Linked DNA regions of Homo sapiens: region 2 is linked to region 1. The links come from fine-mapping of genetic effects on gene expression. Tissue or cell type: spinal cord. Region 1 holds a variant in brackets; the other region holds the start of a gene. All regions are shown on one strand. Distances are between the middles of the regions.

Region 1 (16,858 bases):
ATGAGACTAAAACTAATTTATAGACATACTAAAGTGGTTAAGAACGCCAACTCTGGAAGCAGATGGCCCAGGTTCATAACCTAGCTCCATCTCTTACTAGTTGTTACTTTTCTGTATTTGTTTCTTTATGTGTAAAATGGGGATGATGATGGAATCTTCCTCATAGGTTGTTGTGAAAATTAAATGATCAATTATCCTTAAAGCACTTAAAACAGTTCCTGGCACATGCAAGCACTGTTGTTATAAGTGCACTATTATCATAACTTTAACGTCTTGTCTTACATGGAGAAATCAGACTTGCAGTGGTGGGAAGTTTTATTGCCATGTTTGGTTTTCTTTCATCAGCTGTGTCCACAAAAAAGTGTAACAACTTTGATATTGCATTTTAGTTGCCAAAATTCTAGGAATAATATTTTTCAGGACAATATATTTCATTTTGATTTAAGTTTCCTTTGAGATTCCGGAATTTCCTGCAAGTATCTCAGACACAAAGAAACCTTGTAAATCCTGAAATTTGTCTCTATACTTCCACATCATTTTCTGTTTATCTAATCCTGCAACCTCTTCTTTTACCTTACAAGGTAGCAAAACATAGACCACAATGAAACCTGTTTTTCCTCCCCCTTTCTCCCTCCAGAAACTTAGGGTAATTGGAACCCTTTCCAAAAGGAAGCTTAGTTTTCAGAATGAATGAATTTCTAAAACTATGTTTTAATTGTCTAAATGGCAAGGCCAAAATATAATTTATAGTTACTCTTACAAGATAAAAAATCTTAACCAGCTCAAGCTATGGGACTTACTATATTAAACATAATTTTTAAAAACTTTTATTTTAGGTTTGGGGGTCCATGGTTTGTTATATAAGTAAATTGTGTGTCACAGGGGTTTGGTGTATAGATAATTTTGTCGCCTGGGTAATAAGCATAGTACCTGATAAGTATTTTTTTCTGATTCTCTTCCTCCTCCCACCCTCTACTGTCAAGCAAGCCCCAGTGTTAAACATAATTTTAAATGCATAAAATCAACATATTTTAAAGGGTTATAGCAGCCTGCAAGACTTGGTAGTATAAGTGCTTTGGACTGACAGTTTAGCTCCTAAATCTGGCATTTGCTCTTTTGATTTACAGTTCCTCCTTTTTCTTACCATCTTTCTCTAAACACAATGAAACTTTTTGGCTAGCATGGGCCAGGAGATAAAATTTCTCAATTCTTTCTTTTCTTACCAACTTAAATATTCTTTTTTTCTATTGATATGCTGATTCTTCTACCTGGAATGACTTCCTAATTAGTAAATGTTGGGCCCTGTCTCTATAAAGAAGTAAATAAATGAATCTGACTAATCTTACAGGCCACGTTAGTTGTGACTCTCCATTACTTTATGTGTTCCATGCCTCCTGATGGTTCTGCAAAAATGTCAACATTTCAGGGGTGGAGGAAGTGTGCACTTTTGTTTTGAGACTTCCTACTTGCTGAGACATGTTGATTAACACTATTTTGTTATTTGCTCCTTTGAAGCACATTAGAAAAATTGAGACTAAGAAGAACCAATTTTTTTAAAGCTTTATCATTTAGAAAGCAATTTTTATATTTTTATATTATTGAATACCACAACCATCTTGAGAAGCAAGTATTATTATTGATGTCTTCATACACCCATAAGCACGGACAAGATATTCTTCCAAAAACCAATTTGAGTTTCTTCAGTCCTCAAAGTTCTATGCTATAGCTTGTAGCCACCACAAATGCATCATGCATGTCAGGGTGATTTATCTGCCTGCGTCATCTCCATTTCAGATTTTTCCATACCCTTTCTGTACTGGACTAATTTCAATAAGTTTTCCAAGCCATACGTGGTCTCTGGGCATATTCCGTCACCTATGAAACCTTGAGTTTAATGTTTCTAGGCTCAATGAGACAACAAAAGTAAGTTCTAGAGAGAATAAATTCATTAAATGAGTGCCCCCCTTTTTTGAATAAAAAAAATTTCCATTTTTAAGTACCCATTTAAAGGCATCAGGCCATAGTTCTCATGCTTAAACCACGTGTTCATCTTCTGGACATATAACCAGTCAGAGATGAATGAAGGAAGGACATTCCGGAGAAAGGATGCAAAGCGGGTAACATACATCATATCCCAAGGATAGCCATCATCCCAGACCCGACTCATGACCCAGGAAGCACTTCTGGTACTGATAATGACCTGGTGGGGAAAAGCAACACAGATTTCAGCATTACTCTGTAAGAAATAAGCAAACACAACACACTTCTTTGGGCACTTCCGTGCATTTTCCTCAATATCCAAGTAGGAACACTTTTAAAAGGCGAGTCTAAATAAGTTGTCTAGCAGCCATAAAAAAGAATGAGTTCATGTCCTTTGCAGGGACATGGATGAAGCTGGAAACCATCATCCTCAGCAAACTAACACAGGAACAGAAAACCGAACACTGCATGTTCTCACTCATAAGCAGGAGTTGAATCATGAGAACACATGGACACAGGAAGGGGAACAACACACACCAAGGCCTGTCGGGGGGATGGAGGGCTAGGGGAGGGAGAGCATTAAGACAAATACCTAATGCATGTGGGGCTTAAAATCTAGATGAAGGGTTGATAGGTGCAGCAAACCACCATGGCATGTGCAGACCTATGCATGTTCTGTACATGTATCCCAGAACTTAAAATAAAAAAAAATTTTTTTAAAGTCTAAAATTTAAACTAGTAGAGACAGGATTCTTTCACTGCCCCTGAGGGCTGGTGTGTAGTTGTTGAAAGGATTAGAATCATACCTCTAGGAACAACAGGGCTCTGTGTTCAACTGTGATGGTTTAATCTTCACATACTCATAGACTAAGATGGCAAGTCTGGTAGGGACCAGATGATCCAGTGAGCCCCAGTGGTTGTGGCTGGTGATAGTGGACTAGGTGTGGGAAAAGTGTAGCTAAATCTCTAGCTGAAATTAGGCTGACGAGATGTCAAGGATTTAATTCTGTTCTCTGTCTCTGGTTGCCTTTTCCAGTTCTCCCTATACACATACCCCAAGGACTTCTCCTGAGCAACCCAAACCATGGCAACCGCCTCAGCCCTGAGATGAGTCTGGCTGCTTATCTATTTTACCGTCTTTGCAAAATAGACTTTAACTTTGTGATAACTGAAGGGAATTTTTAGTTTAAAAAATTTAGGTTTTATTTACATCCATTTAAGAATTTATTTATTGAGAACCTGTTTTCTTAAAAATATGTTGTTTCTTTAGGGTCTATCGATGATACATGATTTAGCTTGGAGTCCTCTGGGAAGTCTTCCTTGACCTCATCCAGGCTAAGTTAGATTCTCTTTTCCCTGTGTTGCTATTGCCACACCTAATTCTACTGGAAGACTCACCATCTCCTCTGGTGATAGTCTGTGTGTACCTGTCAACTCCATCTCCATCCATTGACTCTTTCTTGAAGTCAGGAACTAGTCTAACTTATTTATGCATTTATTTTTAGTTTATCATAGTTCTGACACATAGTAAGCATAGTAAGTGCCCAATATTTGTTGAGCATCTGCTGTTGATTGAATTAATGTTAGTAAATACCAAGTCATGCATATCTTTCAGAACTTCAGAGTGGTAAACACAGTGCTTTTTGCATGATACGTTATAATAAATACTGTTAAATAAATAAAGATTAAGCCTGACCAGGAACTAGTCTATTTGGAGGTGATCAGAATATAAAATGAAAACAAGAAATACACACATACACACTCATCTGTACATACACGCACTCATGCACTTACTTCTGGATTCAGTGGAATGTACTTCCTTACTAGCACGGGCCACATTACCTGGCTTCACATGGAGGATGTCTCAAGTCCTCCTTGATTTGAAGGGCCACATAGAAGAGGTGGATCTCTTGTGGTGTGACATAGAAGTACCATCCTCTGTGCCTTGGCTACTGATTTAGTAGCACAGCCCTACCTTAGGTTTATTTCCCAAAACCTTTACGTCATGTACCTGTGTAGCCAGACGGCTGAGCTCAACAGCAATGTCAGATCCCGAATTCCCCAGACCAATCACGAGGACCCTCTTCCCCTTGAAGGCTTCTGGATTCTTATAATCCCGGCTATGGAGGTAGTTGCCTCGAAACTGGTCCAGGCCTAAGTGGAACATGGCAAGTTGTTTGAACTGATTTTCAGAAATTATGAAGATGTTTTCTTTGTGTCTTTTTAAACCTATTATCAGTTGTAATTAAAAAATTCCCTAGTTGAAGTGCATTTATCCATTTAGCATTTTTTGACATTAAGCCCCCTAAAACTTACTTTTAGTTCCTTAAAAAATCTTAAGGCATGAGAATGTATGTTTCGATAATAATAATGGTTAATATTTATTAAGTTAACTCTGTGGGCTAGATCCTCTGATAAATGCTTTACACGTTTTAACTATTTAATCTTGATAACATCCCTGCATGGTGGGCTATTGTCCCTATTTTAAAAGAAGAGGAAATTGAGACAAAGAAGGTAAGTGGTAAGGAACTAGTGGAATAGTAAGTTGAGGCCAGGTGTTCTGATCCCATGCTCATAAACATTAAATATGCTGCCCGTTAACATTAAGAGTTTTAATCTTATATTCCTCCTGAACCTTCACTCTTTAATTTTCCTCGGCCTATGGACATCATACCTAGACATGGAAACTCTAATATCTTTGAGTAGATTGTGTTCCTGTGGCAAGGAAGGAAGGAAAAATGGAAGGAAGCCTCCATGTATATTGTATTTATTTGAGGTTTGCCACTTTCGGATGGTAATGAAGTATGCTGCTATACACACACCCATGTGTGTACCCACACACAAATCACTGAGATTTCTAAAGTTTATTTGCAAATTGTGGATGAAGATGAAATTAGAAACCTAGGAGTCTCCTATAAATAACATAAGTAAACGTGTCTTTCTTTAAACCATTTGGCAGTTGGACTCTACTTTTTTTTAATGTAACTGTGCTCGGAGACCCCGTGTGCTGTTAGAACTTATATTTGAGTTACTGTCTGTAAAACAGGAACTTGTGTTTGTCTGATCTCTGGCTTGCAGTCCTTGATTATTTTAACATAAGGACTTATGAGGCTATTTATTACTATATCCTATCATTAAACTTAATTTTTTTCTTTTGAAATCTAAGAATAATCATTATGTAATACCTATAGAAAGATATGTTTCTAACTCTTGATGTTTGCATATAAGTCCCTAGATTATTATATATTTTCCAAACTTACCAGGAAAGGAATCCGTTGGCAGATTGGGGTATACGTGATGTCCTGAACAAATCATTACAGCATCAAAAATAGTAGATTCCTGTTTCCCATCCTTTTCAGTAACAACAACCCATTGGCCCGTGACTAAGAAGCTGGGACATTTCTTTATACCGGAAACCAGGGTCTTTAAGAAAACTAGAAAATTTATTTTTCCATTTATAATTCTACATGTGAAAGTTTTTTTCCTTCTTGCCTTGTTTCTGTGGAGGAAATAATTGTTACGAGCTCTCTTGGTCATTCAGAAATGTATAGAAAGATAGTAAAATTGGAGTCACAGTGAATCTTCAGTGAGTCTTTGAATCTCACAAGAAAAATTACTCACTGGAGTACATTTACTTTTTGACATCAAGTTAGTTGATTTAGGGGTAAATCACACTGAATATTTTTGTGAATGATGTCATATAACAAATCTGTGTTATTTTCTTATGGCTACCCTCTACTGACATGGCTTCCTCCTTTTCTGACCTCATCTTCCATCTACTCAATAAGTATGGGAATATCTCAAGGTTTGATCGTTGGCATCTCTTTTGCTCTGCATAAATACTCTTATCTTAGAAATATAGCAACTTTACGGCCAGGCGCGGTGGCTTATGCCTGTAATCCCAGCACTTTGGGAGGCCGAGGCGGGTGGATGACGAGGTCAGGAGATCAAGACCATCCTGGCTAGCATGGTGAAACCCCGTCTCTACTAAAAATACAAAAAATTAGCCGGGCGTGGTGGCGGGCGCCTGTAGTCCCAGCTACTCAGGAGGCTGAGGCAGGAGAATGGTGTGAACCCGGGAGGCGGAGGTTGCAGTGAGCCGAGATTGCGCCACTGCACTCCAGCCTGGGCGACAGAGCGAGACTCCGTCTCAAAAAAAAAAAAAAAAAATTAGCAAGTTTTGTGGTATGAATATACAAATACATCTATCCTTGGTCTCTCTTCTATCCAGTTTAGCTTGACCTTTCCATCTGGAGGGCCACCTAATACTTCCTCATATGTAGCAGGTTTTGATTGACCTACTTAAATTTCCTTTGAAACTGGCTTCTGACTTTCTTATTTCTTTGAATGATGACATGAAACTCCCAGCCACTTATGCTTCAAATCCATGACTTGTTTTCCTTGTTATTTCTCCATCCTTGCCTCATGTTTAAACAGTATTTATCTCCCAATCTCACGCTTTCTTTCCATGATTGCTAACACTGCCTTCATTCAAGTCCTTATCACTCCCTTGCATGGACTACGGCAAGAACCTATACCTAGCCTGTCTTCAGCCTCCCATTTCCTACAAGCCATCCTTTGTCCTGCTTGTCAGATTAATCTTCCTGAAGGACTATATTCATTTCTCAATTTCTCTGCTCAATTCACTGCTCAATTTCTGTTACTTCACAGCCTCTAAAACTTATTCTACATTTTGAATGCGATTACTATTAAGTCCATACAATTTTGTTCCAATTTACTCTTTTAGTTTTATTTTCTGTTATTCCCACAGACTTTTCTGGAACATATTCTGCAAATTGCTTCCCTAATGTCCATTCTCCCTTCATTCTTACTAACAGAACCCTGATTTTGTTTGGAGCGACAACATACACAGAAAAGGGATGCATTTTCCAGGTTCCTGTGCAACTAGGGTGGCCTGTGAGATATAAGCAATGTTGGACAGTTTTTTCAGGAGAATTTGTAAAAGGGGAGCTGATTCAGCTGAGAGAACATCCCTTTGCCCTTCATTCTTTACTTTTTTTTTTTTTTTTGCCTAGAAGGCAGATGTGACGGCTCAAGCTTCAGCAACTGTTTTGCACCACAAGGCAAACGTCATGATGTAGGCCACGTGCTAAGATGGGTGAAGCTGAATCTTTGATAACTTTGGTGCCATCACATAAGCTCTGGATGTCCCTTCTTTGGACTTCTTTTACATGGTTGCAAAATAATCCTCTATTTTTCAAAGTCACAGTACACACTAGTTTACTGATATATGTGGCCATATCTCATCCTAGCATATATATCTCCCTCCTAACCAACTTGGTTTGCCCACTGTTCTCCAAATGAGCAGGGCATTTTCCCACCTCTCTAATTTTACTCATGCCACTCATTTATCTAAAACACCTACTAAATACAACTAAATTTTACCTCCTCTAGAAAATACCTTCCCCCAAAGTGTTGCCTCTTGCTTCATGATCTCCATAGCATTGTTTTATTTATAAACAAATCATAAAGAGCTTTAAAAAATTTTCTCTTTGATTGAAATTGTTACTGGAATCTTTTTACTTACTCTTTACATATTTATTTTGAAATAACTTCTTGAGAGCTAAGTCTTAGACCTCTTTTTCTTTTACATATAACACATAGCACAATGCAAGCACACAATAGGAACTTCATTAATGTTTGTTGATATTAACACCATAATGGAAGCAAATGAATGTAATGAATGAATGGAATAAAATGACTATTGGAAAATTTTATTTTAACTATACATTTGGGGCTACTCCAGGTAAAATAATGATGTAAATATCACCATGGTTCATAATTTTGCTGATTGTTTTTCCCACTATATGCAAGTGTTCTGCATTTAGCAGCAGTTAATTGAGGTTAAGAGTTCCAAACATACAGACAGAAATGCTCAATAAAGAGTCCCAAATAAATGTAAAACATTATTCTCGCAGAAACAATGCTGAAATCTCACCTTTTTAATAAAAAAACTAATGAACTGAGTGGGTAAAGATGGGGGCAATGACTATATTTCCCATTTAAGTTGTTAACCTTTTCATAATGTAATGGGAGAAACCCTACCAAATGCTCTGGTTTTTTGAACCACAACTCATTGGCATTGAACTGACAAAATTCCTAATATATACTAAAGCATTTTGGATTATTTCCAAAACATCAGAGCATGAGGGTGGAAAGTGGACAATGATGGGCTAGCTGCCTCCATTTTCTAAGGTAGTCTGAAAGCTCTCAGAGACTAGTGAACTAGTAAGTCTAGGAGAGAAAAAATCAATGCATGAATGCTTTATAATCAGAGCCAACATTTGATTACTGAGGTGCCCAAACATTTGGCTCTAATTTTTATAATAGTTTGCTGCCTCCTTTTTCTCTAACCCACACATATCTTAATTTCAACAGTACAAGTTATGAGACCCCTACCTCAAACTGTATGTATCTTAAAAGATCCTTCTTTTGAGCATATGTCTTTATATATTCCTGGAGCTTGCTGTGGTGTATATAGTTTGGGTAATCATCCGGATAAGGGAAGTCTGGAAAGCACATCATTTCTTTGGAAGAGTTTGTGAATACAGACTGGTAAATGCTGGCTCTGCCTTCTTCTGTGTGGTCCTAGGGAGAATAAGAAAGCTTAAAGAGAAAGCCAAGAATTGTGTTCCCTTCAGTGAACACAGTGGTTCAATTCTTGGTTGACTAAAACCCTTTTCATGTTTAAAAGCGTAAACAAAAATTAAAAGCTCTCAGTAAGATAAGGAATGGAAAGCCCTTCGCGTAGCACCTGGCACAGAACTGGAGCTCTTTCCATGTGAATCCTCTTACTGTAATTACCCTCAGTGTTAGCTCTGTCTTTATAGCCACTTAGTGGTTTTTGCTTTCTCCTGTGCCACCACTGGTTCTGATCTTATACTCAGGTTAAAAAAAAAACAAAAAACAAAACTGTCTAGAAGAGGCTCTGACTTCTAGCCTATTTATTTGCTTTTGGAGTTTAGCAAACTCTTCACTGGCAACAACCCAATATTGCAGTGGTTTCCCAGCTTTGGCGTAATGAGAATCGCCTGGAAGCTCCCTAGACCGTAGATTCTTGGGCCCTATTCTTAGAATTTCGGATTCAATCTGTCTGGGGTGGAGTCTGGGGTGGTTTGCATTTCTATCAAGTTCCTGGTGATGCTGATGTGGCTGGTTTAGGAACCACACTTTGAGAACCACTGCTCTGTTGTAAATGAATCCTATTCTTTGGCTCACCAGTTGCTGGACTTCACTCCTCACCAAAGAAACACAGGAAACCAGAGCCCTTAGAACATGTGTTAAATCTTGGCACTTCATTTTAAAGCCTCTGTGTAATTGAAAAGTGGCTTATTTTTTAGAAGCAGTCAAAAGCTAAATTGAAAATAAACATTTCCTCTCAGTTGTGAGGGTAGGGTAAAAGTGCACACAATGTGCTGCCTTGAAAATACATTTCAGAGCTGGCAGCTTCTGCTTCCCGAGGTCCGGAAGGACTCTTGTGCAATGGGGGGAAAGAGATGGAATGTCACGTTGCTGCTGGATTCAAGATGTGTCTCTCCCTCTCACACCAGATGACCTCTGGAAGAGGGAAACAAAAAGTGCTGGAAAGGGTTGAGAGGATTGTGTCCCCGTGGGGAAGTGGGGGGCTGCCCAAAGCCTCAGTATTTTTTCTCAAGTTGAAAACATAATCTTCCTCTATTCATGGTTGCTGTATTTCTCATAAGCGTGGAAGCACAGGAATTTAAACTTTTTAAAATTTTTGTGGAGGTCAGAAAAAGGGTGAAGGCTCATGTCCAGCAGTTTGGCAGGCTGAGTGCTTCCCTTTCACCCACAGCTAGCGCCTTCTACTGATGGTTGTGAGAAGAAGGAGAGGTGGGAAGGAGGTTTTTTCAGCTGCCTGTTGAAAGGAGGCAGGGCTGAACTGTGGGATGGAGCCTGGTTAAAGAATGTAAGACTCTGTTCTGGGAAACAGATGCTAAGGCCTTGGAATATTTCCATCTTGAATGAATCTCTGCTTTTTTGCCCCTTGACCTCAGCCAATTATAACAC[C/A]AGGAGAGAAGAGTATGTACACTACAGCTCCTTGGAATTTTTCCGAAAAGACTGTTCTCCAAACAAACACAAAAAAGCAAATGTATTAGATAACAAGTCAGTTGCTCCAGGGAGCATGCATTTTTATTATTTCAATATGAGGTGTGGTTTGAGCCAGTAAGGAGGAAATTCAACTTTGACTCTGCCTCTAGCTGAGGGAGCTTTACCCTGGAACCAGAGATCTAAGCAGCTGTGGGCACCATCTGTCTTGGATGATAACCGTGTTCATCTCTCATCTTTCCCACGAGAACATAAGTAACTTGAGGGCAAAGTCAGAGGTTAATTTCAGAATGTTGTACATGCATCTAAGCAGTTTACCTTGATCTTCTTTCCTATTCCAGCTCTGCTTATGAGTCCCATATCTCCTTGTCTAAATATGCCCTTGAAATATGCTCAAAAGTTGCCTTCAACTTTGTCATGGCTTTCTTTACCTTCCCTCTCAGCTACTGCCAAATCATCTTTAGTTTTACTAAGGTCCCATTATCCTTATTGCCCTAATTATATAGTCACTTATAGTTATTCTGATACTTGTTTTCTCACGGCTTTTAAAGTGCTGGCTGGCCTCTTATCTGCAGCTTATGCTTAATATAGTACCCTACACATAAAGTACACAGTATGTATTCATTGAATGAACAAAGGAATAAATGAGTGGGAAAAAGTTCAAATAGTCCTGGCTTCAGCTTTTGCAATCAAAATGCTACTAACCTATTGGTAAGCATTTTTTTTTTTTTTAATGGAGTCTTTCTCTATTGCCCAGGCTGGAGTGCAGTGGCATAATCTGAGGTCACTGCAACCTCTGCCTCCTGGGTTCAAGAGATTCTCCTGCCTCAGCCTCCTGAGTAGCTGGGATTACAGGCACCCACCACCACACCTGGCTAATTTTTGTGTTTTTAGTAGAGATGGGGTTTTTCTGTGTTGGCCAGGCTGATCTTGAACTCCTGACCTCTCGTGATCCACCCGCTTTGGCCTCCCAAAGTGCTGGGATTATAGGCATGAGCCACCGCACCTGGCTGTTGAGCAACTTCTTATTACAGCAGTAATGAAATCTTTTGAGGACACGAGGCCCTATTTAGGAGTGGATGAAACTTAAAACACACATTCAGCCTGCTAGTATTTAAATCCCATTTGGTTTTCATTTCTCAGAAAAAGCAAATAGTGAAAAGTTCAGAATTACCACGTTTCTGTCTGCTAGAACACCTTCTAAAAAAGGCTTACAAGATAAAGTCTTATGTAACACATAAAAAAAATCCCTCTCTGATTATATATTGTGCCAAGCAACTTTTCTAAGAAAAGAAGGAAGGGCTGGGGTATGTGGAGGAGGCTAAAGTTTTGAGTATTTGTATGGGTCCATATCCTCACCAGGACTTTGAGTAGAATTTTGCTTATAGACATGACCTTATGGAAAAGAAGAATTTCCTCTTGTGGATAACTCAGAATCCAACTTTGAATCTTACTGATCTTTGTATCATATTATTGCTTCCTTAAGTAAACTTTCTGATCTGGCTATATTGGATAACTCATGGATCCCTCTCTGCACACACCATGTTCATTGCCTTTTCTGTGCCTTTCATGGATTGTTGGTCTCTCTTAACCTGGTGCTGGCACACTGCCAATGACTGCATAGGCCTATGGAGTGCCATTCGCAGACTTTATTGGGAAATGCACTCTCTAGGAGTTGTGTCACAGGTGGTCCTCTATTTTGCTTGTCTGGGGTTATCCTTCAAGGCTAAGTGTCATCCCTGTGGGAGGTTTTCTTTGACCTACTAAGATTTCCGTAGTCCACCCTCTTCTAAACGCTCGAGGCACTCGTCCATTGAATTGATGGTGACAAGGTCTATCTTGTTGTTGTAGTTATATAATCTCTTATTTTAAAAGTCTTAGGGCCAGATATATTTTGGAATGTGTACATTTTTGGATTTTGCTCCATAATACTCCTAGTGAGATCTGGGGCAGCAATCTGTCAAATGCAATAAAATTTCTGCCGTGCAACAGAAGGTGAGACTTAGCTTCATGTTGATCCAATTCACGGTATTTAACCTTACGATTTCAGAAGAGGTTCGGCTATCAAATGAGTTTTTGCCCATTTGCTATCAAAGGATTACGGAATTATATTATGGCTTGCTTAATCAAATGAAATGGAACCATTTACAAGGAGTGATTATATTCCATATTTGTCATCCCAGTACTTAGCACAAACTACCAGAATAGATGCTCAAGCATCATTTAATTGTTACTAGGGAGATGGTAGAAAGCCATTTTATGATTTACTCTAAGCTGTCCACATTTCCCTGAGCAAATGTAAATAGGGAAAATTAAATTCTTGAAAAATATTAACTCTTGATTACCCCCTACTGGGAAATAAAAATTAATGACCTTATATCTCATGGAGTGCTTTCAGGGTTACAAAACCACAAATTTTTTTAAAAAAAGCTTGGAGAAGAATAAAAATGTGTTCTAAGTTAGCACTGATATACTCTATTGGAGGAGGCTATTGGCGCAGGCAGAGCAGTAACTGAGACCAGGACAGGAAGTAGTTACAATATGAATGATGTGAATATGTTTTCAAGCCAAATATGTATCATCGACAACTGATTACAATGGCTGGGAAATCCAGGACAGAAGAACTAGAAGTTTCTCCAAACTTGGCTTTGAAATTAAAAAAAAAAATGTGTTTACAAGGACTATTTCCTAATTATATTATTTCTACAATGAGCCCAAATGGCAAAGACCATAATTTTTCCCTCTGGATTTGGAGCTGATAGGCTATTCAACAGCCGCACACACAATCATCATCTATAATAATTTCTATCTGCCCAATAGACATAAGTTAATTATAGAATCATATCCTCTGCATTTGACAAATGAGCATTTGAGGTCCAGGGAAACAAAAGCAACTGGACTGAAATCTTATCTGCCTAGAAAACCTACAAGTTGAAATTAGAACTCAGGACTTCTGACCTCAGGATCTCAGTCCAGGTTTGTTTGTCTCTTTTCTAGTCGTGTTCCTGGCATTTAAGAGCAATAAAGAATAGAATTGTTTCACTTACCTGGGAAGCCCATGGTATATTTTTGACTAATTACCAACATTAGTGCCCTTTACAGCTTGGAGATCTGGATTTCACCATGCAGGTGATGATGTTTAATGAGCTGAAAATGTCCTTTTCAGGACAAATTTTGCTGGTATGAAATAGTTTTTTTGGGCATTAGTATGATTGGAGAGGTAAGATTTTACTTTCCAGATTTGGAGCTTTTGTGATCTGCCTTCTAAATCTGAATTAGAACTGATCAGATTTGATTTGCATTGGAATCCATCTCCTTCCACTGGTGTTCTAATGATGTGCCACTCACTGAGAATTTCCACAGGCCTCCAACATCATCGCTCCTTTCAAAGCAAGTGGGCTCCAGCCCCTCCTCCAGACAGCACCATATGGCAGCCAAGCCACTGACTCCAGCTCCGATGATGCCAACCCTCTTGCTCATGATTGCCTGTAGCAGAGTCTGGAGAGAACATCTTCAGAAGAGTGTCTTTAATACTTACGATTTTTTTCAGTAGAAATTATCAGCCAAGGTTTATGTATCAGGATCCTCACTCAAACATAAGAAGACATAGATGCACATTGATAGTATATGCTCATTATTTTTACCACTTTTGCTATAATAAGATTCTAAAACTGGCTGCTTCTGATTATTCAATATGTCAAAAATAGCAGATTCAGTGAATGCTAGAGCAGGAAGGACCTTGAAGATCATCAATCCAATGCTCTCAATTGCAGATGACGCTTTGGTATGCTGAGACTAGAAACTACTTCTTCAAGGTCTCAGAGGTAACAAATAAAGGAATTGGAACTAGACATCCAGCCTGCTGCATGATATCCTCTGTACAGAATCACTCCTCATTTTGAATGCTCTAAGGGACTTCACCTCTTAAGCAATCACCTTTCTCTCCCCAGAGAATCAGCAGTTCTCGAAATGTGGAAGAGAATGGCATTTAACAATGTCTTTTGATGTGAAAACTGGGGAAGGGGGAGGAGTTATTCTTAAAGTAAAATTCCTTTTTTTTCTTGTATTTTTAATGGTATAGAGCCATAGTAAAATCTGAAAGAGAAGGACTGAGTGTGGTAAGGATAAGAGAAGAACAGGGGAGGCATGGGTGAAGTAAAAAGAAAGGGGTAGGAAAAAGGCAAGAATGAAGTCTTTGGTTCTTGTTACAAAAAATATAAAACAGTGACTGCCATGGCCACTGGAGCTGTAAGGTGAAACTCCTGGGAGATTAGGGGAACAATGATTCTTTCATTTATGTTTGCTTTGGAAATATAGAATATATAAACAAAGGCTATGCACCTGGACTATAATGAAACGTTTTGTTGTGCCAACAGTGAAAAGTAGCTCAAATTTCTGGAAACTTAGGGCCTGATCTGAGTTGCTGAACTAACGCTTATAGATGAGCTTGTAAAACTAGTGAACTCAAAAGACAGAATTGTGGTCTCTGAACCTTGTCTCTGGCTCCCTCCGGCTTCTATACCTGTCCTTTCTGCTTCTGTTTCCCTCCTTTCCTTCCTCTGGCCATTCCTTTCACTGTACTGACAGCCTACTATATGTCATGCATTATAATAGTCTTTTGGGGGATTCAAAGGTGAGAAGACACAGTGCTTTCCATCTGGAACCATGAAGTCTAGTGTTGAGGGAGATGATAAATGTCACAGTGGAAGTATGGTTCAGTGTAGTGCTAGCATGTAGGAAGAAAAATCTAGGTCCACTTGGAGGAGGAAAGAGAGGCTTCAAGGAGTGTGAGAAGACAGCTGAGTCTTGAAGGAAGAATAGATGTTTTCCAGACAGATAAGGGACAAGAAATAGAAAAAAGGCAGAGAGAAAAATATGTGAAAATGCATAGAAAAGTAAGAACACGTGATGGGGGAACTACAATTAGTTCAGTTTTGCTGGACCATAAGTGATGGGAATAGCAAAATATGGGTTAAACATGCAGGACATAGGTTATGAAGGATACTGAAGTGCCACAATCACAGGTTTGGATACTACCTTCTGGATTACGGTTGTCCATTCGAGAATTTTGAACAAGGAAGTGACAACATCAGACAAGATCAGATTCACCTGGAGGCTAGAGAGGATGGTGACTAGAATCAAGGAGACCAAAAACCCAGGATGTTATTTCAACAATCTAGGCCAGAGAGACTGAGGACTTAAATTAGAGTAGCATTAGAGGAATGGATAATGGAGACAGGATATATGAGATATTCAGGAATTAGATGTTTGGGGACCTGCTGACTGATTATATGCTTAATGCCTCAGCAAAAGTACTTCTGTTTTTAAGATTTCATATTATGATTTATATGCATATGCTCATGATTTAGTGCAGGAGATAAAAAACACTATATATCATGAAGAAAGGTATATACTACAGGGAATTAGGTGCTTGCAAAAGGTCAAAGAGCTGAAAGAGCAGGAACTAGGAGGTTGCTGCAGGACTGGAGAGGTCACACCACTAGAGCTACTATCCAGAGGGCAGGAAACTGCTTCAATCACCACAGATGCCTGCAACATACAAATTGGGGGGCTAAAAGGTGGAACATGGAGTTCAGCTGATATAAGCACACCTGTTGGAATACATTTGCCCATCAGCATTGTCACGAAAATTTAGCTTTTGCTTCCCTTTGCCTTCTGAGCCTAGATGTCTGTCTCACTGGCAAAACTAATTGCATCCAATCCCTAACTGCAAGAGAGTCTTAGAAATGTGGTTTTTTAGCTTTCCAATTCTTGTAATACGTATGATATTAAATGAAAGCCAGTTCTGTCTTCTTATAAATTTTAAAAATATTCATACTGTTATCTAATATTATAGTTAAAAACTCAGTGATTCATCTCTTTGGCTGTATATTTTGGGATAATTCTTGCAGGAATTTAGATCCTTCCCCTGTAAGATAAGCAAATTGGATTAAGTAATTACTAATATCCCTTCAACATTTTACAAATCTCTTAATTTCCTGCATACACCTCAGTGTATTAAGAAATTAAGAGATTTGTAAAATGTCAGCTTTTCAAAGACAGAAAATATAATTTTCTGAAAGGGTTGGAAACTTTTCCATCAGCATCATGGGGAGGAGGAGTGGAAGCATAAGGCGATATAGGAGAAAAGCCTCATGCTTGCCTTCCAGGACCTCAGGCTTCTCCTAGCTGCAGGTTCAGCTGAAGGTAATACTGAAAAGATTACAGCTGAAAGTAAAGTCCAAGGTTTTGATTATCACATATGATGGGATCTATTTTCCGGATTGAGACTGCATTTGTGATTTAATGAGATCACAGAAAGTCCTGTTACTCAAAAATGATCAGGAAAATCAGACCTTGTGGATCTCCTGCCTCCCCCTGCATTCTCATAGCTTGGCAGTGTCTTTAGAGCTATAAGAAGGTGGTATCCCAGGTACTTAATCAACTAAAAGATGAAGTCCCTGGAGTTATTTGATAGGCCAAAGTGAGCAAGATCATGAAACAAGGGGAGAACATTGTCCACAGTGTCTTCTTCTTCTTCAGCGCCAGCAGTTCTCTACTGGTGAACCATCTTCAGGCTGACCCTGAGTACTATGGAGGACCCAGGAGGAAGAGATATGTTAAGGCCAGGGATAAAGGTGATCATTTCCAGAGCTTCTCTACCTCCCCCTCAGCTGGGAATCTACCTCTCTGTGGCCTTTCCATGTCTCCTTGTACTTAAAGTTCCATGCTTTTCTCTTAAAGCTCAGGGCTCTATAGGTCATACCACTGAGGCTTGCAGCCCCTAATG
Region 2 (16,858 bases), 53 kb after region 1:
GTTCAATTAGGAAAAGAGGAAGTCAAATTGTCCTTGTTTGCAGATGACATGATTGTATATCTAGAAAACCCCATCGTCTCAGCCCAAAATCTCCTTAAGCTGATAAGCTACTTCAGCAAAATCTCAGGATAGAAAATCAGTGTGCAAAAATCACAAGCATTCTTATACCCCAATAACAGACAAACAAAGAGCCAAATCATGAGTGAACTCCCATTCACAATTGCTTCAAAGAGAATAAAATACCTAGGAATCCAACTTACAAGGGATGTGAAAGACCTCTTCAAGGAGAACTACAAACCACTGCTCAACAAAATGAAAGAGGACACAAACAAATGGAAGAACATTCCATGCTCATGGATAGGAAGAATCAATATTGTGAAAATGGCCATACTGCCCAAGGTAATTTATAGATTCAATGCCATCCCCATCAAGCTACCAATGACTTTCTTCACATAATTGAAAAAACTACTTTAAAGTTCATATGGAACCAAAAAAGAGCCCGCATTGCCAAGTCAATCCTAAGCCAAAAGAATAAAGCTGGAGGCATCACACTACCTGACTTCAAACTATACTACAAGGCTACAGTAACCAAAACAGCATGGTACTGGTACCAAAACAGAGATATAAACCAGTGGAACAGAACAGAGCCCTCAGAAATAATACCACACATCTACAACTATCTGATCTTTGACAAACCTGACAAAAACAAGAAATGGGGAAAGGATGCCCTATTTAACAAATGGTGCTGGGAAAACTGGCTAGCCATATGTAGAAAGCTGAAACTGGATCCCTTACTTACACCTTATACAAAAATTAATTCAAATGGATTAAAGACTTAAATGTTAGACCTAAAACCATAAAAAACCTAGAAGAAAACCTAGGCATTACCATTCAGGACATAGGCACGGGCAAGGACTTCATGTCTAAAATACCAAAAGCAATGGCAACAAAAGCCAAAATTGACAAATGGGATCTAATTAAACTAAAGAGCTTCTGCACAGCAAAAGAAACTACCATCAGAGTGAACAGGCAACCCATAAAATGGGAGAAAATTTTCGCAACCTACTCATCTGACAAAGGGCTAATATCTAGAATCTACAATGAACTCAAACAAATTTACAAGAAAAAAACAAACAACCCCATCAAAAAGTGGGTGAAGGACATGAGCAGACAGTTCTCAAAAGAAGACATTTATGCAGCCAAAAAACACATGAAAAAATGCTCACCATCACTGACCATCAGAGAAATGCAAATCAAAACCAAAATGAGATATCATCTCACACCAGTTAGAATGGCAGTCATTAAAAAGTCAGGAAACAACAGGTGCTGGAGAGGATGTGGAGAAATAGGAACACTTTTACACTGTTGGTGGGACTGTAAACTAGTTCAACCATTGTGGAAGTCAGTGTGGCGATTCCTCAGGGATCTAGAACTAGAAATACCATTTGACCCAGCCATCCCATTACTGGGTATATACCCAAAGGACTATAAATCATGCTGCTATAAAGACACATGCACACGTATGTTTATTGCAGCACTATTCTCAATAGCAAAGACTTGGAACCAACCCAAATGTCCAACAATGATAGACTGGATTAAGAAAATGTGGCACATATACACCATGGAATACTATGCAGCCATAAAAAATGATGAGTTCATGTCCTTTGTAGGGACATGGATGAAGCTGGAAACCATCATTCTCAGCAAACTATCACAAGGACAAAAAACCAAACACCACATGTTCTCACTCATAGATGGGAATTGAACAATGAGAACACTTGGACACAGGAAGGGGAATATCACACACTGGGGCCTGTTGTGGGGCGGGGGGAGTGGGGAGGGATAGCATTAGGAGATATACCTAATGCTAAATGACAAGTTAATGGGTGCCGCACACCAACATGGCACATGTATACATATGTAACAAACCTGCACATTGTGCACATGTACCCTAGAACTTAAAGTATAATTACAAATATATATATTTTTAATATAATTATATTAATTATATATTTTTAATATAATTATATTAATTATATATATTTTTAATATAATTATATTAATTTTTATATAATTATATTAATTATATTTTAAATATAAAATATATATTTTAAATATAAAATATATTATGTATTTAATATATAAAGTATATTATGTATTTAATATATAAAGTATATTATGTATTTAATATATAAAGTATAGTATGTATTTAATATATAAAGTATAGTATGTATTTAATATATAAAGTATATTATGTATTTAATATATAAAGTATATTATGTATTTAATATATAAAATATATTATGTATTTAATATATATTTAATATATAAAATATGTAATATATATTATATATAACATATATAATATATATGTAATTATATATAACATATATATAATTATAATATATATATTTTTATATATTTATATATATTTATATATTTTATATATTATATATAAATATTATATATGATATATAATAGATATATAATATATATAATATTTATATATATAAAATTATATAATATGTATGAAATAATATATTTTATGTATTTATATATAAATATTATATTGATATAAATATATATTAATATATTATATATAATTATATATATTATATATTCATATCAATATATAATAATTACTATATTATTAATATATAATAATTAATTATATAAAAATATTAATATATATTATATATTAATATATAATATATATTATATATTTATATATAATATATATTATATATTAATATATAATATGTATATTAATATATAAAAATATATAAAATATATCTATATAATTATAAATATATAATTATAATACATAAATATATATTATATATAATTATATAAATATATATTTATACATATTATAATTATATATAATATAATTATATTTTATATATATTTATATTATATATATAATTATATGTTTATATATTTAATCTATATAGTTATATAAATATATATTTATATTTTTTATATATTTAATATATAAATATATATTAAATATATATTTATATTATTATAGATATATATAAAAGAAACATACCATATTTTTAAGAAAAGATGCTGGGTGGTTTCAAGAGTTTTTTGCAGTCTGCAAAATATCTATATTAATAAGAATGATATCTCATGTCTTTATAATATTTAAACAGCTGTTACAGACACTGTTTCATTAAATACAACCTTTTCATTGAGGTAAATAATATAATACTGATTTTGCATTTGAGGAGGAAATAGTGGCTTAAAAGGGTCATTAATCTTCCTAAATTTGCATATATATTAATGGGTTTATCAGAAGAAGAAAAATAAGACTCAGGCAATAAGGCTGGAAGACTGTACTGATTGAGTGGAGAACATAGGGAAGCCCCATTCCTGCTGCTGTTTGGCAACACATGAAGTGATTTAATGAGTGCATACATGCATGTCTGCTAATAGAACCCTTATTACATATGCACGGGACAAAGGGGCATTGAAGAACTTCAAAGCAATTCTCAGTTTTGTAGTTTCACAAGACCAAAGTCAGCACCTGAAACTTTAAAATCCATGGTCCCAATCACTTTGGTAGCCTCACCAAATGAATGGGAAAAGCCAACAACAATGGAAAAATTATCTAGGAACCCATTTAACCAGAGGTGCAAGATCTCTTTGGGGAAAACCACAAAACATGAATAAAAGAAATTGTAGCTGACACAAATGGTAAAACATCTCATGCTCATGGATTGGAAGGGCCAATATCATTAAAATAACCATATGCCCAAAAGACTTAATGCAATTTCTAACAAAATATCAATGCCATTTTTTACAGAATTAGAACAATTCTAAAAATTCATATGGAACCAAAAAAGCCCAAATAACCTCAGCAATTCTAAGCAAAAAGAACAAAACTGGAGGCATCATATTACCTGACTTCAAATTATACTACAAGGCTATAGTAATTAAAATAGCATGGTACTGGTATAAACATAGACACATAGATCAGTGGAACAGAATAGAGAAGTCAGAAATAAAGCCTCATCCCTATAGCCAACTGATCTTCAGCAAAGTTGACAATAGCATATGCTGGGGAAAGGACACCCTATTCAGTACATTGTGCTTGGAAAATTAGATAGCCATACGCAGAATGAAAGTGGACCCCTATCTCTCACCATATACAAAAATGAACTCAAGAGAGATTAAAGACTTAAATGTAAGATCTGAAACTATAAAAATTCTAGAAAAAAATAGGTAAAACTCTTTTACCTAGGCTATGACTAAGAATTTATGACTAAGGCCTCAAAAGCAAATGTAATAAAAATAGACAATCTAAAAATCTTTTTCGCATAAAGAGAAATAATTAACAGAGTGAACAGACTACCTTCAGAATGGGAGACAATATTTGCAAGCTATGCATTCAACAAAAGACAAATATCAGAATTTATAAGGAACTCAAGCAACTCAATTTTAAAGAAGCACAGATAACACCATTACAAAGGGGAAAAAGGAGATAAATAAGCATTTTTCAAAAAAAGACATACCAATGGCCAATAAACATATGGGAAAATGCTTAACATCACGAATTACCAGAGAAAATGCAAATTAAAACCGCAATAAAATACTATCTTACACCAGTCAGAATGGCTATTATTAAAAAGTCAAAAAGGCCAGGCGCAGTGGCTCATGCTGGTAATCCCAGCACTTTGGGAGTCCGAGGCCGGCAGATCACCTGAGCTGAGGAGTTTGAGACCAGCTTTGTCAACATGGCGAAACTCTGTCTCTACTAAAAATACAAAAATTAGCTGGGTGTGGGCACCTGTAACCCCAGCTACTCGGGAGGCTGAGGTAGGAGAATCGTTTGAACCCAGGAGGTGGAGGCTGCAGTGAACTGAGATGGCGCCACTGCCCTCCAGCCTGGGAGACAGAGTGAGACTCCCACTCAAAAAAAAAAAAAAAAAAAAAAAAAGATATTAGTGAGTATGTGGAGAAAAGGAAACACTGTTGGTTGGAATATAAACTATAGAAAACAGTATGGAGATTTCACAAAGAATTAAAAATAGAACTACCATTTGACCCAACAATGCCCCTAGTAGATATCTATCCAAAGGAAAAGAAGTCATTATATAAAAAAAATTCCTGCACCCATATGTTTATCGCAGCACCATTCACAATAGCAAAGAAATGGAATCAACCTTGTTGTCCAATAAGGATGATTGGATAAAGAAAATGTGGTATATACATACATATATGTATATATACACACAGACGCATATACATATATATGTATGTATATATGCACACACCATGGAATACTACCCAGCGAGAATACAGAATGAAATTATGTCTTCTGCAGCAACATGGATGGGACTGGAGGCCATTATCTTAAGTGAAATAACTCAGAAACAGAAAGTGAAATACCACATATTCTCTCACTTACGATTGGGAGCTACATAATGTATACACATTGACATAGAATGTGGGAATAATAGACATTGGAGACTTGGAAGGGTAGGAGAGTGGGAGGCGGTTGAGGTATGAGAAATTACTTAATGGGTGCAATGTACATTATTTGGGTCATGGCTACACAAAAGCCCAGACTTAACTGCTATACATTATATCCATGTAATAAAACTGCACTTGTACCCCCTAAATCTGTAAAAAAAAAAAAAGATGTGAAAAGTTATTGTGTTTTAAATGAGTAAATAATTATAACTACATAAACCTAACTAATATTTACCACTAATTTTATGTCCAAGTGGCTCTTATTAATGATCTATCAAGGGAGAACTGTAATGGAGAATTTCAAAGCCCATTGTCTAATTTACTTCTGACTTGCAAGGAGGTTACTTTCCAACCTGCTCTTGACACTGTACTTAGTGGATTCCAATTCTAACAGATATGATAACTGCCATGGTAGCAGGTTTGGAAACCTGTGTGCACACAGTGTGCTCTTATACACTTCCCAACCTATTTTCCTGTCTATTACAACAACATGCTACTCACTGAAAATTTCCACAGGCCCCCAATGTCATTGCTCTTCTCAAAGCAGGTGGGCTCCAGCCCCTCTTCCAGACAGCTCCTGATGGAGGCCAAGCCACTCACACCAGCTCCAATGATGGCCACTTTCTTCCCCATGGTAACCTGTGCAAAGGCCCAGAGAACATTTCCAGTAACAACATTGCTGAAAATGTATTTACTTATTTATCTATTTATTTTGATTTCGCTCTTTGGCTTAATAAAAACTTTACTTTTTAATAAACACTGGCTGAGTATGGTAGCTCACGCCTGTAATCCCAGCACTTTGGGAGGCTGAGGTGGGAGGATCACTTGAGCCCAGGAGTTTGAAAGCAGCCTGGACAACAGAGTGAGACCCTGTCTCCACAAAACAAAACAAAAAACAAACAAAATCAGCTGGGTGTGGTGGCACATGCCTGTACTCCCAGCTACTCAGGAGGCTGAGGCGGTAGGATCACTTGAGTTCAGGAGTTCCAGGCTGCAGTGAGCCGTGATTGTACCACTGCACTCCAGCCTGGGTGACAGAGTAAGACCTTGTCTCTAGAAAACAAATTCCTTTTAGTGATCTAACTACATTTTCATTTCTCTCTAATTTCTAAAGAGAAAGTTTTCTTCTGAAAAAAAAATAAGCACTTTGTTTTTAGTCATCAGCTCTCCAAAATTAAGAGACTGATGACCCAGCATACATATTTATCTTTTTTGCTTTTGGACTTTGTCATTTACTGTCTACCAAAAAGAGTAAGCAGAAGAAATAAAGATTCGCAACTAAAACACCTGTAGACACATCCACCCACCCACCCACATACATATGCCTGTATATGGGAATGAAGAAACACATATGTATATGTATACACACACACAGTCATACACACACACACACACACACGCAATCTGTATCTTCTTTTTACTTAGATACGGATAATGAGGAACAAGGTCTGAAGATGTCTGTATTTCAGTGTGCCAGGTAGTCACCCCTTCTCCCCATCAATAATGTACTTCACCTTCTCAATTAAAAAGACAAGTAAATGGTGCATACCTATAGTCCCAGCTACTCTGGGATTATATAGTCCTGTTGAGCTGGGGTATCGCTTGAGCCCAGGAGTTTGAGGCTGCAGTGAGCTATGGTTACAGCACTGCACTGTAGCCTAGGTGACAGAGTGAGACCTTCTCTCCGGGGGGTGTTGGGGAAAGAAGTCATGTTCTTACCTAAAAACAATTTTTTCCCACTACCTTCAGCGTCCATTCCCCTCTAAGAAAATTACGTTTCCTAACTTTTTTCTGTTCCTGACACTGTCTTTAGGCTCTACCACTACTTCTTTCACTACTTTTTTTTTTCTTTTTAGACAAAATCACATAGCTATGCAGGGAAATAGACTTGGATGATTAAACATCATGATCCGTGATTCCCAGAAACAAACAAACTGCCTGAATTATATCATTCTCATTCTAGCCATATTTGGTATAAAACTACAGCATGCTCCTTCTTCATTTACCCATCCCACCCTCAACCCTTTACTATATCACCTTTTATTCTTTTTCTTTTCTTTTTTTTTTTGAGACGGAGTTTCGCTTTTATCCAGGTTGGAGTACAATGGTGTGATCTCGGCTCACTGCAACCTCTGCCTCCCAGATTCAAGTGATTCTCCTGCCTCAGCCTCCCAAGTAGCTGGGATTACAGGCATGCACCACTACGCCTGGCTAATTTTTGTATCTTTGGTAGAGATTTGGTTTCACCATGTTGGTCAGGCTGGTCTCAAGCTCCTGACCTCAGGTGATCCACCCGCCTCAGCCTCCTACCTTTTTAATTTTCCTACCCGTTCTTTGTCTTCTTTTCTTCTGTGTGTCTACGTCCTGTCCAACCGTCTGGGCAGTTTGAAAGAGAAAATGTTCTAGTGAGCCTACATATTAGGAAGATTGTTGAAAAATGGGAGGAGCTGCTCTTAAAGAGATACTCATTTATTGGTCCTTGAATGGGTGAGCACACGCCAACCCTCTGTGATGGATGGGACTGTAGGCCAGTCTCCCATGGCCACCCAGTTTCTACTTTTCCTTTGATTATGGTAAACACAAGCTGCTGGTTATACTCTTGGACCCTTGGCCTGGGAGTCAAGTAGTTTCTCCCAGGTGACTTTGCAGTTCTGTACTCCATTTTATTATGTGTTATTTGAAAGTTTACCTTGTTTTCCTTATTCCTAGTTCTTTTGTGGGTAGCTCATAGTAGTCCTCCAAATACTGTAGAAACTTAGCTACTTAATTGAGATAGCCCAATAAGGAGGATGACTTTTCTCTGCTCTCTCTTTTCATGTCCTGTCTTGGAATTTTGGGGTCAAAGGCCTGTATTTCTCAAGCTTATATTTACTTGTTTCTGAGTACAGTGTGTGGTCACAGAAAAGATCAAAATTCCACAAATTGATCTATTAGTACCAGGAACCAGGTAAAATTAGTACCAGGTAAAATTATGTTGGCAGTTAGACAAAATAAACTGCACCTAACTCCCAGTCATGAAATATAGTAGAATTTCAAAAAAAGTTTTCCTATCAACTATATTTTGATGTCACTTAGAATTATAACATCTCACTCATTTTGTCTAGTTAACTCCTTCATTAAGCAAGTGATACTTAGTGTAAACTGGTATATGTCTAATTTTGAGGAATTACCCTTCATGCCTTTTGAAGACAGTAATCTTCATCTCTGAAGTGTGAGTATGAGAGATTCCAAATCACTTCTATAGCTCTGTGGCCTTGGGCAAATCACTTAACCTTTCCAATCGTTGATTTACTCATTAATAAAATAGGGATAACTACACTATTAATTCCTGTCTGGCTATTTTTTTTTTAACAAGGATTAGAGGATTAAAGGGTATGTACACATAAATACATGTATACATAGGTACATATAAAATGTGGCATGTAGTTAAAAATGAGCAAATGTGACTTGTAGATAAAAATTAAAAACAAGTCATAGGTTCATGAAATTTTCTAGGGCTGCAATTCAGACAACATGATTTTCTCTGCTCTCATTTTACATAGAACTTCTTTTCAGTTTTTAATGCTACATAAATAGAATTAAAATAATGCAAAGAAAAGATTGTGACTACTTCAGGAAGCAATACTACTCCTATAGCCTTATTCATTTAAAGATTGGCAGGACACACCCAATTCTACCTTGGCCTCCGATGTTTTATCTCTCTAGGAGGTGAAAAGGCCACCTATTCTTTGCTGTCCTTCACAAGAATGTATCTGAAGTCGACACATTTATTAGTCCTGTCTCTCTCTAGCCTATCCTTTGCTTGCCACAGCTTTCTGCAGAGCCCCTTTTTAAATCTTCAGAATCTCAAATGCCCAGGCTCTGGTTGGGGCAGTGGGCATTCTCTACTCTGTTGTCCCCTCCAAATCACAAAACTGCTAAGAAGAAACTTTCATCCCTGGATGGTTGCTAGATTATTGTTGCTGTTGGAGGATATGAGTGGAAGACTTATATTCTGTTCTCTTGCTCTATATTTTCTTTGTATTTTAAAGAAATTTTTGTTTTCTTCTAATTGATTTGCTGGAGGCAAGGCATATATCTCTTGTGACACCTGTTGTCATGTCTGATGATGCATAACAGTTGAAAGATTTCTATAAAATGAGAGTGGCTTTTGGAGACTCAGACTTGATCATCAAAGCTATGATGGAACATTCCAAAGATGTGGATTCTTTAGGGTCCATATTCTGAAGCTAATATCTCGTAAAGAATCGAGTGAACAACAATTAGTGCAGGCAGTGCTAAATGAAGCTGACAGTCTGTTGCATCTTCTGCTACAAGTTTAAAAAGTGTCTCAAACTTTTTTAGTTTCATAGCCAGAGGAATGCTGTGTTTATTTCCAAAGATATATTTTTTCATATGTTTTTAGCTATCTTTGTCATGTATGTGTGGGCTCTAAGTCAGTGATGTAAAATTATGTAAAATGTTTTCTCTAATGGGCTTGTCAATTGTTAACTTCAATAATGATAAAAATAAAGTGTCTTCAGTTTTTCTTTAGAAAAAAGATATATGCTGTTTGATCAGGTGATTTTACTTTTGGGAATATATCTTATAAAAATACAAATATAAGCATGCTTTAACAAATTGTATAAAAAAGTTTATTTCAGTGTTGTTCAAAGTATCAAAAATGAGATAGAATGAATGCTTTTTGTTAGAGAAGTGAATAAATTATTCTGTAAATTAGAGCTAACAGATAGCTTGGAGAAATACCCCATTAAAGTACTAGAAAGGAAAAAAGCAACATGCAAAAAAGTGCTTATAATATGATCCTTATTTCAAAAATGAATGCTGATTTTTAAAAATCTGTATAAATGTGAACACAGACACACATAGACATACTCATATGATCTGTAATGGATTTTGATCAGGGAGAAAAATATGAATGTATATATAAGAAGCGGTTAGTATGCTTTACCTTTGGGGGTCATCATATGTGAGTAGATGAAAGAGCTTAGAATAAATAAAATAGGAAAACTAAATTTAAAAAATTATGATAGGGAAAAAATAAAACCAAAACATTTTAGAACTTAGGTAATAAAAGACTGTCTATTTAATCCTGGAACTAACAAGCAAGTGCAAACAATGTTTGTCTGTGATTTTTGACATTTGGTTGCACTGTTGAGAAACACTGAGTTAAAGTCAGGTCCAATGATAGGTCCAGAGTGGTTACTCCACTTGTTCCTTTACAAAGGGGCAAGGTCTCTGTTCCTCACATTGCCACTATTGCCCCAGGGGCAGGAAAACCAAGACAGCCCTGATTAAGGAAAATAAATGAAGAGCTTATCTTACAACTTTGAGTTCCCATCTGAGCCTTCTGTGGCAGCTGCTGGAGTTACAAATAACCCTAAGTTACCAGGAAAATGGTCGCCATTACCAGAGCCTTCCAGAGCAGGAGCCTTATGGAATAAGAAAGATCACTTTCATCGCTCATTAGAGAAAGAACCCTTGTGTTGGTTGCTTTGGTAATTTTGGGGCAGTAGAGGTGAGGGGACAAGATAGCCTTTTAGGCTCCATTCCATTTCTCATATTCTATCACCTGGAACTGGGTTGGTGTATAATGGCCAAAAAGACTTTCCAGGCTAGTTTTGGATGCATGAGGAATGGGGACAGTAGTTTGAGTTTCACACCAGAGAATCTGACCATTTCATTCATAGAGCCCACATATTGCACCTGAAAGTAATGGGCCAGCCAGGAACACGCAAGAACGCAAAAGAGGAAGAAAACAGAAACCCTATTGGCTGATGTTAGCCTGATACTCATGTCTGCATTGTAAAACAATAATTTTCAAAATGTACTTTCCACTTAGAATCATGTAATTTTAGAACTTGAAAGAACTTTAAGGATTAAATTTATGAACGATCTCACTATAACATTTTGGGCTAGGCAATTTTTCTTTTCTTTCTTTTTTTTTTTTTTTTTTTGAGACGGAGTCTCACTCTGTCGCCCAGGCTGGAGTGCAGTGGCGGGATCTTGGCTCACTGCAAGCTCCGCCTCCCGGGTTCACGCCATTCTCCTGCCTCAGCCTCCCAAGTAGCTGGGACTACAGGCGCCCGCCACTACGCCCGGCTAATTTTTTTGTATTTTTAGTAGAGACGGGGTTTCACCGTTTTAGCCGGGATGGTCTCGATCTCCTGACCTCTTGATCCGCCCGCCTCGGCCTCCCAAAGTGCTGGGATTACAGGCGTGAGCCACCGCGCCCGGCCTCTTTTCTTTCTTTATTTTTTGAGTTGGAGTCTTGTTCTGTCACCCAGGCTGGAGTGCCGTGGTGCGATCATGGCTGACTGCACCCTTGAACTCCTGGGCTCAAGAGATCCTCCTGCTTCTGCCTCCCAAGTAGCTGGCACTGCAGGTGAGTGCCACCATGCCTGGCAAATTTTCTTTTCTTTTTTTGTAGAGTAGAGATGGGGGCCTTGCTATGTTGCCCAGGGTGGTCTCAAACTCCTGGGCTCAGTGATCCTCCAGCTGTAGCCTCCCAAAGTGCTAATATTACAGGCTTGAGCACTATGGCAAGTCAGCCTGGGCAGGGCAATTTTTCATTGTGTGAGATCATCCTTAAGATTGCAGGGTATTTAGCTTACCTAGTATCTAAGTCAATAAATGCCAGTGAAAACTACTAGGCATAGAAAAAGAAAAGACTACCCCTATATATTTCCAGATGCCACTATGGGGAAGTATTTCTGCCATCAAGACCCACTTATAGATCAACACACCTATTTTGTTTTTAGACCTAAAAATGTGAAAGAGGTTAATTAACTAATTCAACTTGTAGTTGTAGCTGACTAGTTACAAGTCAGACACACGTGCACTGTCCAGCATGCTGAGTTGCGTGGCATATTAAATAGCCAAAATAGAAAATATGTAAAATGAAGGGCAGCTGGTTGGAACTTATAACTAAGGAGAATGCACATGATGCCTTTCATTGGCACATTAAGCTGCATTCATATACACTTTTCATTTTTTAATCTAGTAAATGAGTGTCTATTATATTCCAGATAATGTTCTAAGTATTAGTGACAGATGTTCTCTGTAACTTATTCCAGTGATCTCCTTCGTTGCCAGTTTTCCAGTTCCACTCCTAAGTGTCTGACAACAGTGGTATATATTTAAAATTTAGGACCCCCTCAGCAAGTTATTTATTTATTTATTTATGAGATGGAGTTTCGCTCTTGTTGCCCAGGCTGGAATGCAGTGGTACTATCTCTGCTCACTGCAACCTCCACCTCCTGGGTTTAACAGGTGATACACCTGAGTTATTCTTCCATTTCACTACCTCTCCCGACTCCAGAATACCATCAAGAGGAGGTTACACATCATTTATTGGACCATAAGTAACACAGAAGCCACTTAGACACTACAATTAAAAAATGAGAAATAAGGACAGTAGTTTGAGTTTCATGCCAGAGAATCTGATCATTTCATTCTTAGAGTCCACATACTGCACCTGAGACTGATAGGCCACCGAGGAACACACAGGAAGGCAAGAGAAGCTGCAAAACAGGCACCCTATTGACTGATGTTAGCATGATATTCATGTCTGCATTAAAGTTTATGAAAATGTTACATATTACAATAAAAAATGTTATAGTGATGAATAGTATAGCTTTTATAAATAGATTAGTCAAGTTAATTTGAAGATTAGCATATATTTGTTTTTTTATTAACCAGAAATATTTCCTTTATTAAAATGTGGTAGAATTACTTCACTAAGATCCTACATGATTTAGTACATTCAGTAACACTTTATAACAAAAGGTTATCTTCAAAATGGTGGGCTCTTACCCAAGAATTACAAGCACTGCACAAATTACTTTAATTGCTTTTAGAAGCCATCTCTTGTAGGGAAGTTGTAGGAGACTACATCTATGAGGTCAGCCAACAGTAGCTGACTGAATGTCTCCTAATGAATCTCTACTTCCAAATTTTTCTCAAGAGCCCTCTTTTGGTAGTTTCTTAGTTTTCTCTTTAATTAAAATGATAATTATTCTCCTTTTTTTGAAACAAAATGAGCATTTCTTTTTTATACATGATATGTTCAGGTAAATAATCAGACCTTTTGAAGAATCACACACACATTTCCTTGATCGTAGTAGCTTTGCAGAATGCTGAAATCACTCACAGTCCTGCAGGCAACTTCCTATTCTCCCTCAAAGAACACATAAGTAATGATGAAACATGGAACTTGGGTCATAGGATCATATGGGACCAAATTGCTCAACAGGTTTGTCTTTATCAGGGTTTCCCCTAAGGTACCAGGGGACCAGTACATCCCGAGAACAAAAAGAAGTCCTGTTAATATGAATAGGAAGCTTGGAATTAGTAACTTGCCTTGAATTATATCCTCCCTCCTAAGAGTCATTAATGGAGGAGACAGAAGATGCTGAGTCTTGACTGCCCACATCAGGCATTTGCTTCACAACCATCCCCTGCACTGAGGTGTCACTGCTTATCTCCTCTCTCTTTCCTTGGCTAGTTCTGTTTCCTGTAAGCTACTTGGACTTCTGTTTATTATAATATATTCTTGTTGCATTGCCCAGACATAAATGAGTGCCTTCCCACCAGGTTTCAGGAGTCCAACATGTTCTTGAAGAGCTGTCATTCTATGTTCTGCTGTTGCAAAATGGGGAATAACAGCAATGGAGAGTCAGGCATACCAAACCCACTGTGGACTGGTACTGCCAATGCATCACAAACAAAAGCCTGGAATTGTCTCACTCTACAAATGTCCACAAGGTTTTGACTCTGATCACAACCAATCACATCTAACTCCTTATTGATGCCAAGGTGCTTTCCATTACCACATCCAGTATCAGCCACTATTAAGCCACTTGGCAAAGCCTTCAAAAACTCAATGATGTGTGGCCAAGCTGTATATCTCATGCTGCTGAAGTGCCCAGCAATCTATTAATAAACTTGATGGATGTACTCTTGCTCTAGTTGTCAGGCTTCTTTATCACTCTCTGGAAAGGAGGGAGGAGTCTCTTTCCTCTGGCTATCACAAGCCAAAGGGTAACCCATGGGCCCAAAGGTATCTAGATTCTCCTGTCATCACCAGCCAACTCAAACAAGGCAAAATAACTGGCACTGTGATACCATCTGGGTACTTAAAATCCATGACAGTCATGCCCAGGTTCATATTGATTTATGGTCAATTGTTCAGGTTTATGTTTAATGTAACCCTCCCTCAACCATTTCTCCAAAAAGCTATCACAAACATCAAGAAGACCCCTAGGCAAATGCTTATCTTTATCTACATTGTTTTTCTCACAGTGGAACTCATAACCAAAATGCTTTACTCTTCTGTGTTTTAAGCATTTTTGAAAATTTTGATGGTCTGTATCTTTTGTTTGATCAACACTTTCCAAAAGAATTTTCTCATCCTCAGTAGAAATTATTTCTTCTACTACTATGAGGACTAGTGGTAAGGCTTGAGGCCCCAACTCCTTCCATTGTGCTTTTTCCACAAAATTCAAATACAGAATCATCTTTTGTCCTAAATCATCCACTATTTCTTTCCCATTGAGAGTAACATAGGCTCTCTTAGATTCTTCTGTAGTTTTGTATCTTTCAAATGAGTAGGGCTTGTAAGGTGGCATTAAGAGAGCATCCACCAGTCCACATTTCTCTAAAACCAGTAGCAGTTGGTTTCTACTCACACCATTACCTAAACCAACACTGGCAACAACAAGCCTCTCCTCTTCAGCTCAGGCCGGATTCAGATTCTCACCCTGCAAGTGCTTTGTTCTTCGCTACCCTCTCCACTCTAGTGCCAGACAGCCGTCATGGATACTTGCACACCACCTCTCCTGGGCTCGGCCATGTTGGAGAAAAGCAGCATATATTTGTTTATAGGAGACCTAGTATATTTGTAAGCTAGTTTTGTTGGCTTGACCTCTGAGGTGCTGGAAGAGATTCAAATGTTCTTTGATCTTTTCGCCAGAGAACAGCAGCAAAAAACTTGTTCAAGCACATAACTTAGTATTTTCTCTTGTGATGAAAATTAAAGTTGTTATATAATCTCTATTATATAGTAAAATGATTTTTTTCTCAGGAATTACATCAACTCAAAGAAGTCTCTGTTTACTTTGACATCTGAACTTTCACTTTATCCGCTAGTTATAATTCCTTGGTTATCATTATCATTACATAAATTTTTCTTTCTGAAAATGGATGATAGTTCTTACAGAGTGTAGGAGTCATGTCTTGTAGTCTAACTTGGATTTTCCTCAGCACGATGCCCTATGCATACATAGTTGATCACAAAATTATTTACTGAATGGTCAGAAGTTTTAAAAATGAGCCCTATTTTAGAATAGGAAGCCTAGTACAGAGGAGAAGACTATGATTTTTAATAGTTTCTCTACAGTTAAGTCCACTTAAATTCATAAAACATTGACAAATACTGTTTTACTGCTTTTCATTGACCTTTACCCTATTGGTAACATTAACCAGTATATCTTTGCTAGGGATTATGACCAGATCTGGAAAAAAAAAGATAACAAAACTATTTTCTTTTCAAGCAGAGACCTCATATTCCTGGCAAATAAATCGACCTTGACAATAAAACACAGGCATTAAACTATTGGATGAATGAATAAGGAGTAGAAAAAATTTATGTGTAACCTTCACAATGAAACTTGCAATTACCAGAAAATAATCTTGTTGGTCCTTTTAGTGGGCACCAAACCAATGAATTATTCATAAAATTCATACATGAACAGAACATCCAGTTTAAAACCTACCTAATGCCAAAGTTGACAACTTCCTCAATACTAAGAGCCAGGAATAAGACTAAGGTATGCTTGTGGGTAACACGATGGGACTTAACACGTGGGCAACGGATAAGGCAGGAGAGAAAATGAAGACAGAGAAAAGTCAAAGGAAAATAATTTAGCATCAGGCAGACCTAATTTGAAACTCAACCTCCAGTGTGTATCAGCTGCATAAACTTGAGAAAGTTATTTCCTTTCTTAAATTTGCTTTTTAAAAAAATCTGTAAAATAGGCATACTGCAAAAGGTGGTCACAGGAATAAATTAGCTGATGAATATGAAACAGCAAGGTTCTACTTGGCAGAGAGTATTTTTGCACACAGGCTCATTTAGTGGCAAAGCACGATCTCCCTGGAAGAAAGCACAGCTGGTAAGAAAAATATTGGCACAAAAATATACACTTCTGTTTCGGAGAAGCTTTTGTAGGTTAAAGCAGTATGTCTCGCAGCTTTTAGCAGAGGTAAGCACAGCAGCTCTAGAAAATAAAAGATGAATTACTTAAAGTGGACTTTGTTCGTCACTTAAACTGAAGCTAAACCAAATCTGTATTGCCCTGAAACATGCTTGAGAGCA

Which allele goes with the higher level. Alleles are on the strand shown, and positions count from the first base shown. SD is a standard deviation of normalised expression in the study named.
As copies of A replace C in region 1, the expression in spinal cord of the gene that starts at base 7,868 in region 2 goes up (moderate effect, 0.50 SD a copy in GTEx).

What was found. PIP is the estimated chance that this variant, and not a neighbour inherited with it, causes the effect. A credible set is the group of variants that fine-mapping cannot tell apart.
Region 2: it holds the start of FMO3, and the variant in region 1 is the best candidate, but not a certain one, in a credible set for the expression of FMO3 in spinal cord (GTEx, PIP 0.65).

The regions. Positions count from the first base shown.
Region 1 is chr1:171,134,902-171,151,759 of GRCh38, reverse strand. The region is part of intron 3 of FMO1-AS1 (FMO1 antisense RNA 1); the gene reads left to right. It also overlaps the pseudogene FMO6P. Among named protein-coding and RNA genes, the nearest start is that of MIR1295A, 42 kb to the right of the region's middle. The variant C/A (reference allele first, on the strand shown) is at 10,030.
Region 2 is chr1:171,081,915-171,098,772 of GRCh38, reverse strand. FMO3 (flavin containing dimethylaniline monoxygenase 3) reads right to left here and starts at 7,868. Exons shown (of 9, transcript NM_001002294.3): 1 at 7,792-7,868; 2 at 5,983-6,120. The coding sequence starts at 6,114. It also overlaps the pseudogene LOC646804.